Linked DNA regions of Homo sapiens: region 2 is linked to region 1. Evidence: fine-mapped QTL for protein levels in blood plasma. A gene starts in region 1. The other region holds a variant in brackets. All regions are shown on one strand. Distances are from middle to middle. Region 1 holds the start of HS1BP3 (HCLS1 binding protein 3). Region 2 holds the start of LOC124907740 (a long non-coding RNA gene).

Evidence for each region. PIP is the chance, under the fine-mapping model, that this variant and not a neighbour inherited with it causes the effect. The UK Biobank Pharma Proteomics Project read protein levels with antibody pairs (Olink). The fine-mapping took linkage between variants from a reference panel, not from the people measured, so its PIPs are less certain.
Region 2: its variant is fine-mapped to the plasma level of the HS1BP3 protein (UK Biobank, PIP above 0.99). The variant lies in the coding sequence of HS1BP3. If it changes the protein, the assay may bind it differently, which can mimic a change of level.

The regions. Positions count from the first base shown.
Region 1 is chr2:20,646,079-20,655,906 of GRCh38, forward strand. HS1BP3 (HCLS1 binding protein 3) reads right to left here and starts at 5,020. Exons shown (of 7, transcript NM_022460.4): 1 at 4,954-5,020. The coding sequence starts at 4,985. LOC105373466 (a long non-coding RNA gene) reads left to right here and starts at 5,204. Exons shown (of 2, transcript XR_001739320.2): 1 at 5,204-5,274; 2 at 5,897-6,122. RefSeq lists enhancers at 4,367-4,446, 4,467-4,616, 4,701-5,438 and a silencer at 4,697-5,286.
Region 2 is chr2:20,635,305-20,645,132 of GRCh38, forward strand. HS1BP3 (HCLS1 binding protein 3) reads right to left here. Exons shown (of 7, transcript NM_022460.4): 3 at 5,669-5,876; 4 at 3,132-3,348. It overlaps LOC124907740 (a long non-coding RNA gene), which reads right to left and starts at 3,125. Exons shown (of 2, transcript XR_007086243.1): 1 at 929-3,125. RefSeq lists enhancers at 440-489, 5,039-5,540, 7,377-7,506. The variant G/A (reference allele first, on the strand shown) is at 5,759.

The DNA.
Region 1 (9,828 bases):
CATCGGCAAAACATCACCGCTCTTGGAGATTTGTAAAATGCAATTCGAATATAATGAATTGTATGATGAGCAAAGAAGTGATGAGATGTTTTTCTTGAAGTGGAAAAAGTTATTAAATACATCCCTCATCCTACATAAGGTGAGACACAGACCTGTGCAGACTAACATCCCTCACGCAAACACCTCTGGCAGGACACGTGGGGCACCCTCTGAGCAGCTCTGACCATCGAGGTGAGACCTCCTGTGTGCTGGGCAGGACCCTGAAAACACGGGAGGAGCTTCTGGAGCTTAACCTGTGTCTGGGGCAAGGCCCTTCCCTCTCTGGAATTATACCCCAATCCATCAAATCCCCCTGCCCCAGCACTCCTCCCACACGGACCCCTCACATCCCACGCTAGGCCACGCTGTCACCAGCACAACGCTGCTGTCACCAACTGGTGAGGCCTACAGTGATGCGTCTCCTATGCCATGTATGACACCCAATGACTGAGTGCTGTACACACAAGGAATATCCTCCCGCGGCGTAGGGCACCCCAGGCAACCTGCCTTCAGGTGGTGAAAAGTGCAGCAAGGGCCGAATGGGCACTGGGAGGTGCACACGCACAGCCAGCCCTCTGCCAACGGCACCGAGTTCACGCAGTGTGCACGCGCGGCCTGGTGTCACCCACGGTGTCACTGCCACCAGTGTGGAGGAGGAAGGTGAGGCTGGATGCTGAGGGGAGACGCGCTGGGCTCTAGGGATGCACCTGTGTGAAGTCACTTCCGCCTCCTGCAACCCTGCGAAGGAGCTCTGCTACCCAGACCCACTTAAAATACAGGGAAACAGACCCCTAAAGGGAAAGTGCCTGCCCAGGTCTCACCCGGCATGAGGTGGAGCTGCGTTCAATCCCAGGCAGCTGCTCCAGAGCCCAGGTGGCCTCTTATGGGGCAGGCATGAGAAAGAAGCCAGGCATCATTTCTTTAGGATCATGATGAAAACGAGGCACAGGGGGGTGAAAGTGACAAGAAGGGCAGTGCCTGAGCTGCGGGGAGGTCCTCTCAGGGGTGGGAAAGGGATGGAGCAGACCCAGATGGGCACCTCCCACGATCCAGCTCCCTCACAGCACCCCACATCCAATGGTTCTCTGACCACGCCAGAACCCACAATCCATAACCCCACCCCTTTTCCAGGGTCCCATTCCATTGCTGGAATCCCTCTGCCTTAGGCCCAGCTCCCCTGACTTCTTACCCAGAGCTGAGCTGGCCTGGTCAAAGCCCACTTCTCCAGTTCTCTGCTTCCTTCACCCTGTGCCCAAGTGGCTCAACGTGACTGGGGACAGACATGGTGTAAACATGCAGCCTGGTCCCATTGAAATTCATGGCTGCAGACTTGAAGGCACAGCACCACACCAGGCTTGGCAACCCTACCTTGCCCTAGATGTGGGGTTCTCAAAGTGTGGTCCCTGGATCAGGATCAGCATCGCCTGGGAACTTGTAAGAAAGGCATGTTCGGGCCTAGGGTGGCCAGCCATCTTGTTTTCTTAGTAAGCCCTCCGACGAGTCTGATGCACCTGGGCCTACTCCATCACCCTCCCACTTCCCTGAACCCATAGGAAAACTTTCTCTACAGGGTCAGATAGCAAATATTTCAGGCTGTGTAGGGTATCTGGTCTCTGCTGCAGCTGCTACGGAGAGTACATAAACAAATGGGGGTGTGGTGGGCAGGATGTGCCCTAGACCAAGCTTCTCCAACTGTAATGTGCGTGCAACCCCCTGGGGATCCTGTTAATATGCAGATTCTGGTTCTGCAGGCCCCGGGGTGTGCCCTCACCATCTCTAGCAAATTCCCAAGTGATGTGGACACTGCTGTGTACTGCTCCAGAGACCATCGGAGAACATCCTAGGCTTCGCTGTCACATCTGCCCATCAGCCTGCAGCTGCTCCCTGATAGCTGCCCTCTCCTGGGACTGTAGACAAACTGGCTGGCTGCTCCTAAGGCCAACCTTCTACCAGGGCAGCGGCTCCGAGGCCCTCCCACCTACTGAAGGACATAGCTGCTGCAGCTCACCCCTCTTTTTCGCACCATCGATTTTCCTTCCTTACTGGCCCACGCTTATTAGCATGCAACCATGCTCTGACCACTCATGTAACAAAAGCTGTGCTTTGACCCGACATTCCCCTTGCTCCGTTTCCCTCCTGCCCTTTCCAGCAGAACTCCTCAACAGAGGGCCCCATATTCATGGGTTCCTCTCCTCCTGTTTGATCTTGAACCCTTTCCAGCCAGACTTTGGTCCTCATCATGCAACAAACTGCCCACGCCCAGGTCATCTGCGACCTCCATGTGGTTAAATCCAAAGGTGAATCCTCATTTCTCCTCTGGTCTGACTTGTCAGCAGCAGTGGGCACAGTCAGCCACTCCCCTCCTTCAAGCTCTGCCTTCACTGGTGGCTGGAGCACCCCCTCACTCTTGGTTCTTCTCTGCCCACCCTGGCCACTCTTGCTCAAACAGGAGGAGAGGAACTGCTTTGGATGGTTCCCCTTGATAGCATCCAGAGCACCCTCCTTCTTCCTCTCACTGTACCCCTCCCCAGGTGATCTCATCCAGGCTCCAGGCTTTAAATACCATTTCCGAGCCAATGGCTCCCCAACTCCCATCTTTAGCTCACTCTCCCCTCACAGCCAGCCTCCTTCCAGCTGCAGCTGCCTGACATCCCCACTGGGCTGTCAACGAGCTTCTCAAAACTCACCTGTCTACACAAATGCTGCTTCTACCTCTCCCCAAGCCTGCTAAAGGGCAGCCTCATTCTTCCAGCAGCTTAGGCTGAGAGACTTGCCGTTAGTCTTAACTTCTCTTCTTGTTCTCACACCCCATATCCAAGCATCAGCAAACCTGAAAGCTCAATCTTCAAAATATATCGAGAACCCAAACATTTCTCACCCTCACGGCCGCCATCACCCCGGGCCAAGCCACCACCGGCTCTACATGGAAACCTACAAGCCTGTCCTGAATGCTCAGCTCGGCCACTGCCCATGCTCAGCATAGCAGCCAAAGGATCTCTATAAACCAGAAGTTGGGCCCTATTGCACTTGAAATTAAATCTGATGGCCCCTCCACAGCCTTCTCGGCCTTTCCTGATCATCCTTCACTCCCAAGCTTGCCTCTTCACCGCATCACCTAACACTCTCCCTGGGCTCACTCCACTCCAGCATACCAGCCTCGGGACCCTGGCTCCTGCTGTCCTGTCCTCCCAGTACACACTTTTCCAAGATTTCTTTTTCATGGCTCTCTCCCTCATGGAGCTTGTCCGGGATCTGTCCAGGCGCCACTCCATCAGAAAGATGCCTCTTTACCACACCATAGAAAACAGCATGCATGCCTCCTACCACTCTGTTGCCCCCACTGTTTTGTTTTCCTTCATAGCATGTATCATCCCTGACATGTCGTAGATTTGCCCACTGGGCCTGTGCCCTCATTAAAGCTCTACGAGAGGGACTTGTTTGTCTCCTAGAACTAGGGCCAGTACCCGGTACAGAGAAGGCTCTCGATAAACACCTTCTGGCTGAATTCAAGCTTGAGTGCATGTGGCAATGACATGTGGGAGGAGATCGGGCTGGAAAGAGGAGCTGGGGTGCGACTGGGAAGGGCCGGCCTTGCTGCTGGGCTAAGGCGTTTGGACTCACCCTGCAGGCAAGATCCTTGGGTGTGCTGGTGCCCTCAGCAAGAAATGAGCCTGACTCATGTGGCCTTACCACCGCCAGCGCCCCCACATCTGTTAACAAGCCACGTCCAGGCTGTGCAGCGGGGCAGGGAGGGAAGCCACCCACCCCATCCCAAGCACCCAGCACCAAAGTCACACCCCATCCATCTGCACATGGCTGAGGGGCATATACTACTGACGTTGCTCATGCCTGCCAATCTGAAACCTCCAATTCACAGAAAAGGAAACTGAGGCTTGGTGAGAGGAGGTGACGTAAGTGGCAGTAGGGAAACCTCTTCTGCCCATGAAGATACAACTGTAACCACACTTGATCATGAAAGACCAAGCAGCCTCCGACATCAGGGTTTACAAAAGGAATCATACCTTTCTAGACCTGAAGTCACGGGGAATTCCTGATTACAACTGGAAGATCAACAGTTGGCTGGGTAACACGTTCATTTATGTCATAAATTGGCATCTTAGCCTAAGACTTTGTGTAGGGAGAGCAAGGGTGAAGTGTATGAAAATATTTGAAGTAAATCACTTTACAGCGTTTTAAAGGCGGAAAGAAGTAAAAGCACGTGCCTCCCAGCCTTGCCAGGATCCACCTTGGGCTGGGTCCTCCAGGTCTCGATCAGGGCCGACCCATTCTGCATCCTCCGCCTGGACCCCTCCAAGGCTTTTGCTGTAACTTGCGCTCTCCTGAGCTGCCTCGCAAGCAGCAACGACCTCTCCCTGGTCTCTCATCAAACTCATCCTCCCAGAAACCGGGTTCCTGCCCTGTACTGTGTTCCCATGGCAACCTGAGCTTACTACCCGCTGCTGGCATCACCCCCTCTCCGCTGCAGCCCCCTGCAGGGCGAGCTTGTCTGATTCGCCTCTGTCCCCAGTGCCCAGCACCGGGCCTGGGACTCAGGGAGCTCTGAAAGGATGGGGAACTAGATTTTCGGGCTCAAAAGAGAAGAACCCAAGGCGGTAGGAAAGGAGAGCAGAGTCCCCACTGCGCCCGCCTGCACTGAACCAGTCAGTCCCAGGGCTCCCGCTGTCCTTGGCTAGTTCTCTACCCTCCAGAGGGCCTCGGTTTCCTCATCTGTAAATCGGGGTCGCCACCTCTCCTGCAGGGCGGTGCAGGGGCCCAGCCCGGATAAGCCACCGAGGGCGCTGGGGAGACCTGCACCAGGTCCCTGGCCTAGGAGGCGGCGGCCTCCCCCCGCCTCTCCGCCCGGGCGCCCCGGACTGCGAGCTGTGCGGTGTGGGGCGCGGGGGTCTGGCTCACCTGGAGGTGACGAGCACCGCCGGGGACTGCATGACGGCGGCGGGGACTCCGGGCGGGGCGCGCAGTCACGGGACCCGGCAGTGCCCGCGTCACCGCGTCCCCGCCCTGCCTCCCGCTGCCCTGGCCTGCCCCCTGGTGGCAGCGGCCGCGCAGTTCGCGCCTGTGGCCAGAGGCGGGGCGGAAGCGCGGCTGGGCGGGTCCCGCACGGTCGCCGTCGGCCTGCGCTGCTCGGAGCTTCCGGAGCACCCAGGCTGAGCCGCGCCCGCCGCAACCACCTAGAAGAAGCCCAGCCTGGCCCTGGCACACGGTGAACCTTAATCGGTGTGTCTGTTTTGCGCTAAAGTTTAGCCGTTAGAGAGACGGGACTCTGCTGTTTCCGCCGCCAGTCCCCATTACAAAACCACTCCCCCTCTGCCCCAAGACCATTTCATTCAACCGATCGGTCAACAAATATTTACCAAGCTGGGGCTCTGTCCAGGCTTCGTGGGGTCTTCTTCAAGCTGCACAGTGAACGCCACGCAGCAGCCCAGTCCCCTTGAGCTTGCTGCCTCCAGCTAGCTCGCCTATCTGGTTCCTACTGCCTGCCCGCTCCATAAATGGCAGGCACTCTCCCGACAGGGGATCTTTAGAGAGGCAGCCTCTGCTGCTTGGCAGAGCCCTGGTGGAGGCCTCCCGGGGCCGGGCCTGCCTGGGATGGCTGCACTTGGGTCCCCAGCTGGAGCAGGGCAACGGGGTCCAGGAGCCAGTTCCCCTCAGAAGGGGAACGTACAGACATGCAGACCCTAACAGACCCACTCATTTTAGATTCACCTCTCCATGGGGTGAGGAACAGAGAGATCGTATCACCTGCCAACGTAGCCCAGGGAAAGAAAAGCTGAGTCTGCAAACAGGGCCAGCAGAAGGTGCAAACTGCTGCCCCTGTTCTGTTACTCCCTCCACCCAGAGCCCCAGTGACAAAAAGAAAGAGAAGCTGGGCTTAACTATACCAGAATTCACGGCAGGGCGATGTCAGCCATGTTTCCTGAGCCTATCAACCACCGCCACCAGCATCACCAACAATATCTACCAGTTTTTACAGATTTTAGTGAAGAAATCCTACAGTAAAAGATTTTGAAAAATGACTTTCCCCAATGTATCTCTTGAATAAATACGGACATTGATATGCCTTATTATTTGTCTCAGATTTGTTTATAGGCAAGATGAGCAATCATGAATGAAGTATGACAATGAATGAAAGTTCTGAGGGAGACCCTTGAAGGCTGCAGTGAAGAGCTGGGATGATGGCGGGAACCCCTGTCTGCTCTGCTGCTCATCGGCCTGTCCGTCTGCAGGGCCGTGTTCATGGCTGCAAATGGTCCTCCGTGTTTTGTTTAAATTGGCATGCCCTACTTTAGAGAAAGGGAGTTCAGGGTCTGGACAGAAAGCAGTATAGGCTTCAGCATTCCAGGAGTCTGAGTGTAGTGCCAGGCAGTCGAGCAGTCACCATTGCACTCACATTTATCCAACAGACAGAAACACAGTGAATAAGACACTTTAGATGCCTTCAGTGGACTTCTTTGCCCTCCTACATGGGGAGTGGGTGGGGGTCTGGAAAGGCTTTCTAAAGGAGCTGAAGTCCAAGGGAAAACCTGAAGAAATATGGATAGAATAGATTAGAAGGAATGTCACGTGCAAAGCCCTAGCGACAGGATAGGAACACCAGGGAACAGGGGGAAGAGGCCAGCAGGAGCCAGGGTGTGGACAGCCTAGTGCACCAAGGCCAGGGCTTTGCCTGATCCTGAGGCCAACACAGCGCCATCAGAGGGTCAGGGACATAGGAGTGGCTGGGCCAGCTAGGGCGTGGGCAGGGTTTTGGAGCATGTTGAAGGTATGAAGATGAGCTGGACTGCAGAACAATCCAGACAAGAGACAATGGTCCCATGAACTAGGGTGATGGCCACCCAGGTGGAGAAGAGGGGACGGGTAAGAGGGCCTTAGGAGAAGGAGTTGGTCAAGACTTGGGAATCCAATGGGTGTGGGCGGGAAGAGATAAGATACCACTATGGTTTGGCTCTTGTGAGTGGCTGGACATTGGTATCATTCTCTGTGGCAGGGCACCTGGAGAAGGAGCATATTTTTGGTAGGATGATGGGTTCTGTTTCAGACAGGCAGTGTTTGAAGGGCTGGACCTATTGATGCGATTGGGTTTATGGCCCTGGGCCTCAGGAAGCCGACCTGGGCTGGAGACTGACATAGGAGTCATGGGTAAAAAGGAGGCTGTTGAGCCTGAGAGTTGGGGTGAGCCCACCAAGGATGGTCTACAATCCAGAGATATGCAGCGGTGTTGGGGGGCTGCAGAGAAGGGGACTCTCCATCATTGTGGGAGCTGGTAGCATGTCTGTCACCAATGCCTTGTAAGCAAATGAGAGGGCCTCACCTGTGCCCCTGGGGTTGTGAAGTGTGCACCTCAGGAAGACTCGGCCCACCTGTCAAGAATGCAACTGGTTTCCCATGAAAGAACGACCCCATTCCCAACAGCAATCCCATTTTCTGCCTCTGTGGGTCCCACGTGCCCCTCTATGGCTCCAGCGCGTAATTGTATACAATGCATGGAATGTGGGATCTAAATCTGATATTTTCTGCTTCCTGTTTAATTCAAGGAGCCCCTTCCATGGCTGAAGCTGCGGTAACACAAACCACATTGCAAAGGATTTTCTATTTCTCTCTTTCTCACTGCCCTGGGAGGAACACTCCAGGCCTCAGTTTCCACCCAGGAAGTCACTGGGCCTCAGGACACTGTGGTCACTGAGAGACACCCGCAGCCTGCAGGGGGTGCTCTGAACTCTGGCTGAGCCATGCACCAACGTTTCCCATGGTGGCTCGGGTCTTCTGGGACCTTATAATTTGTCTCTGTTCCCTAATGTGATACTTTAGAGCTCCAGGGTCTGGGCACATCCACATGGAGCAGGGCCACCACCTTGCTTGTCACTCAGCAAACACTCATAGGTACAGCTCCAGGCCTGTTATCTCCCCAGGCCTGGGGGCTACAGAGCCTTATCCTGTGGGGCTCACAGCCCACTGCAGGGGCTCACAGGCCACTCTAGGACAGCTGGAGATTTCAACAAGGATGCACGCCTAGGGTGCTATGGTGCACAGAGGAGGGCACATAACTAACTCAGCCTAGGGTTGGGCATACAAAGAATTCTGCCAGGAGGAGGTGATGGCAGACCTGGGTTGTAAAAAGTAGGTATTATTTTTTTGAGACTTGATTTTCTCACTGGTGAAATGCACGTAACAGAAACCTTTAAATCATAACATTGCTTGAATTACATGAGGTAAAATGAGACTGAAACAAGATGAAATGTATGGCAGGCATTGGTGATGAGCTAACCGGAAGCCATTCACAACCCCCTTCTTCCTGGTTTTTATTACCATAGAGGCTGGAGAAGTAAAACACATGTCCCATTTCAGTTACAAGGGGCCATGTGACATAACTGACCACATATACTTAAGTCCCTGTGGAGGATTTATCTTGCTAGGAGAAAACTCTTCGCTCCTTCCTTGTCTTCTACCTGGGAAGGGGATACAGTGTTGGAGACACAGCAGCCATCATGGGAGCAGGAGGCACAGACATGAGTTTGGAGTCTACCATGTTAGGGATGAACAAGCCTGGGGAGCTGATGGCATATGAGCTTGCATACACGCCCTGGACTTTTTCTACAAAGTTCTCCTTGCATAAATGCCTAAATCACTCTAAGTGGGGGTTTTCTGCAGTGGATTTCCTGTTGGTGTAGTTGTAAAGTACTTACATAATGCCTGACATAAAAACTGCTCCATAGGGGATGCAGGGATGACTGAGGAGGAGGAAGAAAAGAGGTAAAATGTGTACTAGGAAGGCAGCTTGTCTTTTTTTTTTTTTTTTTTTTTTTTTGAGACAGGGTCTCATTCTGTCGCAGTGGCATGATCACAGCTCACTGTAGCCTCAACCTCCTTGGGCTTAGGTGATCCTCCCACCTCAGCCTCCCAAGTAGCTGGGATCACAGGTGTGTGCCACCATGCCCAGCTAATTTTTGTGTTTTTTGTAGAGACAGGGTTTCCCTATGTTGCCCAGACTGGCCTTGAACTCCTGGGCTCGAGCAATCTGCCCTGCTGAGCCTCCCAAAGTGCTAGGATTACAGGTGTGAGCCACCATGCTCAGCCTAGTACGTCTTGATAGAACCAGAGCGTATCTGAGGAGCTGGTGAGAAGAATATGTGGAAGGATTGCTGGGAGAGGAGGCAGCAGAGGGCAAGAGGAGCCTGTGTTCCCGCAGCATAGAGGGCCTTGTGCGCTATGCAAAGGAGCTCACATCTTATCCTGAAGAAGGAGGGAGTGGGCTCACAGAACAAAGGGAAAAGAGTGTTTCAGGAAGAGACTGGGGTGTGATCAGCAATGCCAAACACTGCTGAACATCCAGGAAGATAAGGAGGTGTTCAAGAAAAACAAACAAAAAAACCCCACAGAACTGAACAGTAGTTAAAGTGGTGAAAGCAGATTTTATTTGGGACTACTGCAATAGGGGTAAGAGACCCCAGTATAGAACTAGGCTAAATTCCGAATGCAGCATGAGAAAGTAGGAATTTATAGCCAAGGAACAGGGTGGGAGTGGTGGCTGGAACATTACTAAGACGAGTATGGGGGGACTCTGGCTATGCCGACCTAACAGGATTCTTGCTGAAGATGGGCCAGGATGGTCAGACATCACCTGGGGATGGTGGAGGAGGGGGAACCCAGTTGGATATCGAGGGTGATCAGATAGGCAGGGTGGGAGGATGTTGGTAACCTGACTTAGCCACGTTCTTCCTAAAACTGGATTTTACAAGGAAGTGCATGCATAGGTCTAAGAGAAGGTTCAGG
Region 2 (9,828 bases), 11 kb before region 1:
CAGCCCATCGAGCTGAGAAACCAGCAGAGGAAGGAGGGAGAGTGCAGCTATTGATCTGGAAGGACCTAGAACATGTAAGCTGGAAAAAAGCAAATTCCAGAACGGCACACAAGACAATCTCATTTTGGCAGTAAGATGTGAATATTCAAAGGTGCATTCAGAAATTCACAGGGAAAGGACTTTTATCTGTGTTTGCAATTTTTCTATACTAATTGTGTGTTATTTGAGTCACAATGAAAAAGGTTTCCCGCAGAGGATTTCCAGCATAAGGCAGAACTATTAGGGTAGAATGTCAATTTTCTCAGCACCGTGACATTCTAAAATAGAAACTTAAATACAAAACAGGGGCGACATGGAGCAGCAATCGGGACAGACCATAGGGTGGAAAAGCAGAGTACGAAAAGGCACGTGCATTGTGCCTGCGGTTGCATGGATGCTGCTGGGACGGGGTCAGAAGAGAGCCCCAGCAGATGGAGAGAGCGGTGGTGTTGGGATGGGCCGAGGTGAGGGCTTTTTCTATCTTTAATTGCTCTCTAATGGTGTAATAACGCTCTCTTGTCCCTAATCAAAACCAGGTTTAAAAGACAAAGAAAAGCCAGGCCGGCCTGGGCTCCGGCTTTGTGCTGGCGACTCCCACCCTCCCAGCAGCCCTGCCGTGGAGCAGCCCTTCAGCAGAGCAGCAGCGCCTCGCCGCGGCCACGGCGGGGAAGGACCGAGGCTGGTTGCATGGAAATGGTGGCCGCTCCAGGAGAGCCCAGAGCTAAGCCCAGACATGGGGCAGGGCAAGCTGGGAAACGGGTGCCGCTGCATCTGCACAGGAACCAAGCGCACGGGAGGGAGAGGGGTGCACAAACAGCCTCCCGAGAAGAACAGAAAGTCCCCCACCAAAGGGCAGGTGGGTGGCACCAAGAGAGATCAACAAGCCCACCTGGGTGTCTGTGAAAGGCCGAGGTGGAAACCCAACTTCAAGGTACGGCTCTGCCACACACACAGCTCTGGAACACACACGGCTCTGGCCAAGATCCTGCTCAACTCCTTCCTCGATTTTACCATCTGTGAAAGGGGGATAATCCTGGGGCCCTGCCCACCTCCCAGGCTGATAAAGACTGGACTGGAGATGGCGTGGGGTCCTGGCTCTGCCATCTGCAGGCTGCAGGAACGTGGACGAACCACCTGACCCTGAACTTGAGTTTCCCACCACACAGAAGAGGCTGATGCCAGTGCAGGCCTCCAGGGCTCCGTTTCTTGACCTGTGCCCACAGTGGATCCTGAAAGCAGTTTGGCGAGTCATGACCTTTCCAAACGTTGAAATAGAATAGAAAATATCCCAGTACAATACACTTAGTAAGGTTTTGTATGAGTTCTGGGAACTTTTGCTTCAGTTTTATGGGATGTTTATACATGTGTGTCCTGGGTCATGGCGTACCATATAGTTTTTACTATGGGTTGTAGCAAGTAGTTTCAGAAATGCTGTCTTACAGATATAATGAGATCATGCAAGCAAATGCTAACTTAGTTCCCAGCATTTCATAAACTCTCAAAAAATTTACTTATTATTCCTGACAGAGGTGATAACGTTGATTCATCAGCACCTTGTCACACGGGTCCTTAAAAAGAAACCCCAGCAGGGGAGGGTCTTAAGCCGGCAGGATTACTCTTAGGTGCTAAGCTTTCCCAGGATTCAGGGGTGAGGGCCCCAGAGTACAGAGCTGGGGAGGGGGCTGCCCCCGCCCCCCCCGCCCCGCCAAGGGGTCCCAGGATAGCTGACACATCTCCCCTGACAATCTGCTAATGAAGTAAGTAGGAAGTTCAAGGCAGCACTTGCCAGCCACAAAGAACATTTTCCTACCCAAAAAAGGAGCCGCTCGGCTAAGTGTGTTCTTCAGCCAAAGGTTGGCACAGACCACCAAAGTCCATCTCGGTTTGGCACTACGTGTGGTTACTCAGAACAACAGAGAATGTGAGTTCAAACAAAGCCTCACCCTTACCAAAATAAAGCCCAAGAAAGGCCTGCCGCGTTGGGCCAGGCTGATAAGGAGTGACTATTACAGGCTTGTCCCCATATCACCCACTACTCTGGCTGCCTCTCCCTCAGGGCCGCTGACCCCACTCAGGGACAAGGCCAGCCACGGAGGGCCAGGAGGAGCGACTGCAGGGCACTTGCTGTGCCCAGGTGCCGCAGGACCCCAGATCTCAGGCCTGTTTCTGCTGCAGCTCCCTGAGCGCCGCGTACCCTTTCCCAGTGCAAATCCTCACCCCTGGACGCTGGTCTCATGGCCACCCTGCAGCCCACCCTCCCATAACCCTCCCCACGAAGAAGGCCTTTCCAGAGTGGGCTGTGATTTTAGGAGAGAATTCTACATGCTGATGAAGTTGAACTTGCTTCTGCCTAATTTCTACTGGGCTCTAATTCCTTTCTGCGGCAGGACCTACACTCATCTGGCGCCCGAGGGCTTTGGTAAACGGCTAAGAGACATTCGTTGTGGTAGAGAGCGGGGAGGACAGCACCCCTGGCCTGGTCTGATTCCACTGAAAGATGGGGCCATGATGGTAGCTGATTGCTAAATTTACATAACTCAGTTCATCGTCACAGGAGCCCTAAGAGGTTGATACGACCATGAGTCCATTTTCACTGAGGAAAACCGAAGAAAAGAGATTGTAAATGGCCAGAGATGTATGGCTGGTGAATGGCCCTGTGTGGAGGCAGGGCCAAGGTGAATGCTCCTGCTATGCAGATGATGCAGCCCAGAGAGCCGCAGCCACCTCTGCGAGTCCCACAGCTGGAAGGAGCACCCAGTCCTCCCACACTAGCCGGACAGGCCCGCAGCCTGCACTACTGAGCTGTCACGGAGGACTCTACCAAGCCCCAGTGCGGAGCCACAAGTGGAGGACATCCTGTGACCCGAGAAGGGAGGCGACACCTAAGCCCAGTCCCAGAGACATGCACACCACCAAGGGCACGCAGAGAGCTACTTCCCCCAACACACCAGGCCAAGGCCTCGTGGCCCAGATCCCTGCGAGGGGGCGACCTGGGATGCTCAGGGCTTTTCTCAGATTCCAGGGAAGGGGGACGTCATCTCCAGAAAGCCTGGAATACACCAAAGGGGCCCTCTCAACAACAGGAGACCAACCGCATAATGCCCAGAGGGTCCAGCGCCTCCTCCTCCTCCAAGGATTCCTCAGCATCCTCGCCCTTCAGGCTCTGGACGGGCGGACCCTCTTCTGCCACTTGGTCTTGCTCCTCAAAAAAGTCGAAAGCCTCTTCATCATTCCCTGTCTGACTGTCTGTGCCATCCAGGACAGAGGAATCTCTGCTGGTGAGCCCTGCAGCCCCTGGGGATCTGGTACCTGTGGAGGAAGACAGAAAAGAATGGACTTGGTAACCACCCCAGAGCCAGGGGAGGCATCTTGCCACACTGCACCCTCCCATGCCAGGATCTGAGGCCGAGGGCTTCCTGCAGCCTCCTGGGACCAAACTCGTCCCTCCTGGGACCTAAGCAGGATGGCGAGTCTGGGTGGATGGAAGGTGACCTCCGTTTCGGGGGCAGCCAAGTGCCTGCTGCAGCCCCCCAAGGGCTGACGGGCACCAAGGAAGCCTGGAGTGGAGTGGTCACAAGTGGGAGCTTCAGAGCAAGACAGGGGCAGCGGTTCCTGAACCCAAGGCCCAGAGCCTGTGTGCGCCGCAGGGATGGCTGCACCCTCCTCCCGGGTGAGCGGTGGGATACAACAGCCAGGGCACAGGGTGATTCAAAAAGAACCAGTACAGCCAGAACCATTTACAGTTGGAGGCACGGCAAGGAACTCTGCAGACAGAGACCTGCCCCGAGAGTCTGGGCACCTGGACTGTGGACTGGATGGGTGCCCAGGGTAAGCATGTGGAAGATTCCAGAACAAACGGTAATCACTCCATTACAAACTGGCTTAGATGAGCGCTTCTTGAAGTGTGGTCTTCAGACAGAGAATGCCCCCTGTGTGACCACAATGAGGTAAGTAGAGAAAGGGAGAGCAAGCATCCAGAAACTTCATAGCATGCTGCCATCATCACAATACCCAAGTGTGCTTTTGTATTTGTGAAAGTATCCATCTGTGACAGGCTGGGAATAAAAGAGCTAGCCCTTGCCACAGATAGTTTGAGAAGCGTGGGCTCAGACTATTTGTTCATTTCTATCCAAGTGCTTACTGGGTAGTTTAAAACAACTGACTTTTAATAAAATCACCTTGTAGGTAAAGAACTTAGAGAGTGTCTGGCATACAGGATGCACTGAGTGATAATGACGATATCGTATTATGTGATGCTCTGTTATTTTACTTGGACAAATGTGAAAAGCCATTCAAAATCTCCCAAACCTTCAATTTCATGTCATAAGCATCTTACATTTAAACATCACAAAAGCCCTATGAGAGAGATCCCTACTGTACATCCATCTTGCAGATGAGCAAAGTGAGGCATAGAGCAGCTTGTGTTTCTATCCTGCCTCTCCACCAGAGAGGGGCTGGGACATCCTGAGCATCTCTTCCAGCGATGGCTGAGCTGGAACCTCTTGGCACAGTCTACCCAGCCCCAGAGACAGGCAAGGAAGGAAGGGTTGTGACCTTGGAACAACAAGGGCAGAAGAGAACCCAGACCCATGTGAGGGGCCCAACATGGCCACAGGACACCGGGGCTGTGCAGCTTGTCCAGTCCTAGGCCTGCGCATTCACCAGTTTTGCTTCTCTTCCCCACCTTTCACTTTAAATAATTTGTTTTATTTACGGTCAACTTTCTTTTGAAAACTTCCCTTCTGTCTTGTGGAACTAGGAGATCCACAGTAGCTGGGAAGGAGTTAAGCAGACGGATGTAAAGAGGGGAGAAGGGGTGGGAGTCCGGCACCAGCAGTGGTGAGAACCTGCCTTGTCCTGGGGGCATCTGTGAGACCAGGGCCTGCCCCACGGGGGTTCTGGGTTGACAGGACTAACCGAGGAGTGGGGTAAAATTGTAGCCACTATTTACTGTGGTTGTTTCTGTTCTAAGGACTTTGCATGTGTTAGCTCTGTAAATTCTCATAACGGCCTATCAGCCAGGCTACTCCCACCTTACAGATGAGAAAACTGAGGAGAGAAGACAGGGCCAGGACACCCATGGGAAGGGCTTGACGTCTCCACCACTGGGGGCAGGGGTGCTGGATCAATTCCTCAGCCCGGAGCTGTCCCCATGACCCTCTCTGTGGGGGCACAGGTGAGAAGCACATGTCCCCAGGGGCAGGTCACCAGCCAGGCTGTGAGAACACAGCTTTCCCGGGATACTGCAGGTCCCTAGGGCTGGTTGGAGGAGGCAGAGGGGAGTGTGGGGTGTGTGTCAGGGGGTTGTATGTGGTGCATGGTCAGTCGGGGGGTGTCGGGCAAGCTCTAGGAATGGGGCTGGCCAGGAAGGCCATGGATGGGGTCACACTATGGAGAATGCCTGCTGTGTGAGCCCCCACCTGACAGCCAGACGTTCAGTCCCTCAAGGGTAGGCCTCCTTCTGCCCACCATCCAGCCAAGGATGTCAGCGAGGCCACCTGCCTCACCAGCCTGGCTGAAGCCTCCAGGCTGCAGAGGCAGCTGTGGACATGCTCCCACTGGGGCACGGCAGCGGGGCCTAGTTCTGGGCCGGGGAGACCTGAGGGACATGGGGCAGAGCCTTGGGTACCTAAGAACTCTAGCAGCTCTGGGCTGCCTGCCAACTCGGCATCCTTGGAGACACAGCGCAGGATCTCATTGAACACGGCTCTCCTCTCCC[G/A]GATGTCAGACTCCCCAACAAACAGGACCTTCCTGGGTAGTGGGGGGAGGCTGGCTGCTGCATAACGACTGCTCAGTTTCTGGTAAAACTCCTCAATCTCGCTGTACTTTTTGGAGACCTGGAATGAGAGGAGCATGTGGTTTCCTGAGTGAAGAGTGGCAGGCAGTGCTCCTTTCTCACCCCGACCAGGGGTTCCCAAGGCCCAGCAGCCAAAGGAAGTGTGCCAGGTACGCCCGCCTGCTGCCCCTCTGCCTGTCTCCCAGCCTCAGGCTCCAGTCCTTAACACGCCTGGCCGATAGCAGATTCAATAAAAACATCTTAGTGGCCCAGAGGAAAGATGCAATAACGGTGCCATTCTGGACACTGTCACAGGTCCAGTTAACAAGATTTGATACAGGGACCCCTGCCCAGCCTGCACGTGATCAGGGCCACTGTGTTCATTCCCAGCTTTCTGCATATCAGGAGGGTGATCTCACCGGCTGGCAGGTCATCTTCCTGCAACACCGTGAATCATCTGTTCTCAGCACCAACCTCATTCTCCCGTGAACCAGTGTGGCCTTCGGCGGGCCAGCCAATGCAAGCAGTGGAGACAGATATTTCCAAGGCTTGTTCTCTGCCCTGCGTCAGGCAGGACCTCTCTGCACGCAGGCACCCGAGTCAAGCAGGCCAGGACTCTTGCTGTCATCAGAAGGCAGCCTTGAGCACCATCTGACTCAGAGAGGGCAGCACTCAGCTTCCCGTGGGGCCAGCGGCTGACTCCCGCTGCCTCCTTGGCCTCTCCCCACAGCTCCTGGGCAGCTAAGCCTTCACCCCTTCACTCACGGAGCTCTTGCTGCATGTTCACTCTGTACAGAGACACCCCAGCAGGCTCTCAGTCTCACAGTGGTTTCAGTGCCATCGCCGTGTCTGTAACCATGTGGGTGCTCAGCGAAGTCACCTGCTGTATACACACACCATCGGCCTGGCACCTACCCTCACTCCTAGCTCCTCTATCACCTGCTGTATGCACACACCATCATCCTGGCACCTACCCTCACTCCTCGCTCCTCTGTGCTTTCCCCATAGACTGGGCCTGTCTCCCCCGACTGAAGTGTGGGTCACTCACTCTTATGCTCCCAGGCCCGGACTGTGCCCACAGTGTGCCACTGGAGTGCTGGCGTGCAGGGGCTGCGGGCATCTGACGCCCTCGGGCTCGGGGAGATCCCTTGGTGCAGGGTGTGTCTGGAACACACATCCTTGGCTCCAGCAACACCACCCAGAATGCCCAGCCTGTGAAGGGTCAAGATACCAGGAGGCAGCTGGGGGGATTTCAGAACCTCCAGTGGGGAGTCACCTGGGACAGGTGCTGCTTGCAGTTGTCAGCACAAGAGCCTGGCTCCAGACTTTCCTGAAAACAGCCCTCAGGGAAAGGCACACGGACCCCTTCCCAGAGCGATTGCTAACACAGGCTCCGACAGCAGCTGTGACTCCAGCCCGGCCCGCAGAGCAGGCCACGGTGGGGGCCGGGCGCCCCCTGCTGGCCCGACTGCTCCCCTCAGGCTCAGACCACAGACCCAGCATATCCAGGCTCGGGGAACCTCCATCTCCAGGGCACTGGCATCGTGAGTACTCCGGAGCTGTAGGCCTGGGCTCCCACCCCACCCAGGGCCCACGTCCATCAGGGGTTCAGGCAGGGCTTCTTGGGTGGGCATCTGCACCAGCAACAAGAGGAGGCCAAGTAAGAGACCCTGAGCAGAGGAAGCTCAAGGTTGAGAACTCACATTTATCTGGTGCCCCCGTGTGCCAGGCACTGCTGAGCACGGGGCAGACAGCCCTGTAACGTTAGTAAGCTTGTGGGTGTCTGCACTGCTAGCACATCCAAGAGCCTGCACAACCTCCACTGCGGTGCCCCCTCCTGCGGCTGTTTTACTCCATGGTCAGCAAATCAGTACACGTTTATATTAAAACACATATGCCCTTTTAAGTAGATACAAAATGCTCATTAATTCTTTGAGTTAATTCATGAAACATCAAAGAGACTTCAGGCTTGGGGGTATGTAACTTTAGGCTCCATCCTGAGATCCCATGGGGAGTAAAGGAGTTCTTTGCCCTCGCAAGTACTTTCAAATGTCTGACAAGCCCCTGCACGCACACACTCCACGAGGAGTGGGCGTCACTGCCTAGGAAAAAGTGGCACTAGTGTGATTCATGGAGGTGTTAAAACACCCTCATGTACACCTTGCATGTAAGGCCGGCCCTCTGCACAGAACCAAGTGGGCTGGGCGGCTGAAGCCCAAGCTTCCCAGAATGCTCCCTCCTTCATGCCCCGCAACATCAAGCTCAAATACTCTCCTCTTCTGCTCCTGTCTCTGAAAATGTGGGTGCATTGAGCTCCAACCTGGATCAAGTCAAATTACCAGGAGCTGCAAAGCACCCTGTAAAGCAGATTCACTCTCAGAGCAATGCAGGCCCAGAATCACCCCTGACATCACACGTTGCTTCTCACCAAGAGTCGGCCACAGGAGCAATCAAATGAAAAACAGCATTGCTATTCTAGACGCTTCTCATGACGTTGTTGAATGTCCCTTAAAATTGTGTGGCTGGGCGTGGGGGTTCACACCTGTAATCCCAGCACTTTGGGAGGCTGAGGCAGGAGGATTGCTTAAGCCCAGCTTGAGGAGTTTGAGACCAGCCTGGACAACATAACAAGACACTATGTCTACCAAAAAAATTAAAAAAGAAAAAGCTGGGCATGGTGGTGTGTGCCTGTAGTCCTAGATACTTAGGAGGCTGAGGCAGGAGGATTGCTTGAGCCCAGGAGTTCCAGGCTGCACTGAGCTATGATCACACTACTGCACTCCAGTCTGGGGAACAGAGGGAGATCCTATCTCTTAAAAAAAGGAAACATTTGTGCTGTAAATTTCTCTTAAAATTTAGTGTCTCTTTCAACAGGTCACCAGAAAGATGCAACTCATCGTTTCCCTTTTTATCTTGGTTGCCAGGAGACTCCAAGCTAGCCCCGTGTCACTCCCTGCTGTACTTCGGGGTCTAGTTCATTTCACCTTTGTCCTAATAATCCTGGACCTGTGTCTCTTGGTCTCCAGCTGCAGGTCCTTTTCACAAGAGGCCAAATGGTAAATAATAAGCCAATGAGTGTGTGATCTCAACCCTCTTGAAATTCTCTCCTCCCTTAGCTCCTCTGACTCCGTAGATACCCACCCAGTTCTCTCCTCTCTGCCTCAACTGCAGACTCCTCCTTCTCCCCAAGAGTCCCTGAACCCCTGGCATCCTCAGGATTTCCTCCTCAGCCCTTCTCTCTGCCTTCCACTTCTGTTCTCTGGGCAACTTGATCCACTCCCAGATTTTTAATATCACCTCCAAGTTGATGACTCCCAAGCCTACATCTCAGGCCTGAGCTCGTCCCGAGCTCCAGCCTCATGTATCCATCCACAGGGCAGACACTTCACACTCCACATGCCCCCTAGGTCTGCTCCTCCATCATATTCTTTATTTCAGTTGGTGGAAACAGTCAGCAAATGTGGTGCATGTTACCCAGTAAACATTTTCAACTCTCCCTTTCCCTTCCATACCAAGTGCAACTGGCCTGCTCCAAGCCCTTGATTTGGGAATGACCATATTGGCCATGTATCTGGGCTCCCTGACACCTGTTTTGTTCCTTCCAATCCAACTCCATGCTCTCAGCAGATTGGCTGGTTAAAGGCAAAAGGGTCCACGTCACTCCCCTGCTTAAAACTCTCCTTGGCTGCAGGTTAAGTCCAGGCTCCCGCAGACTCTCCACAATCTGGATCCTGCCTGTCACTCACCTTCATCTTCCCCGCTTCCTCCCAGGACCACACTCAACTGTGCAGAGTTCCCACTCAATGTCCTATTTCCAACCTCCGTGCCTTTGCTTAGGATGTGTTGTCTGCCCGGGACACCCTTCTCACCTCTCCTGCTGAGCCCCATCTGTTCCTCAAAACACAGCTCAGCCACCGCCTCTTCCAAGAAGTTTCCCCAGGGTCAGTTAGGTGCCCCTTCTCTATACCCCCAGAGCCCCCCAGGTGCTCCTGTCCCCATCTGTATCTGTCTCT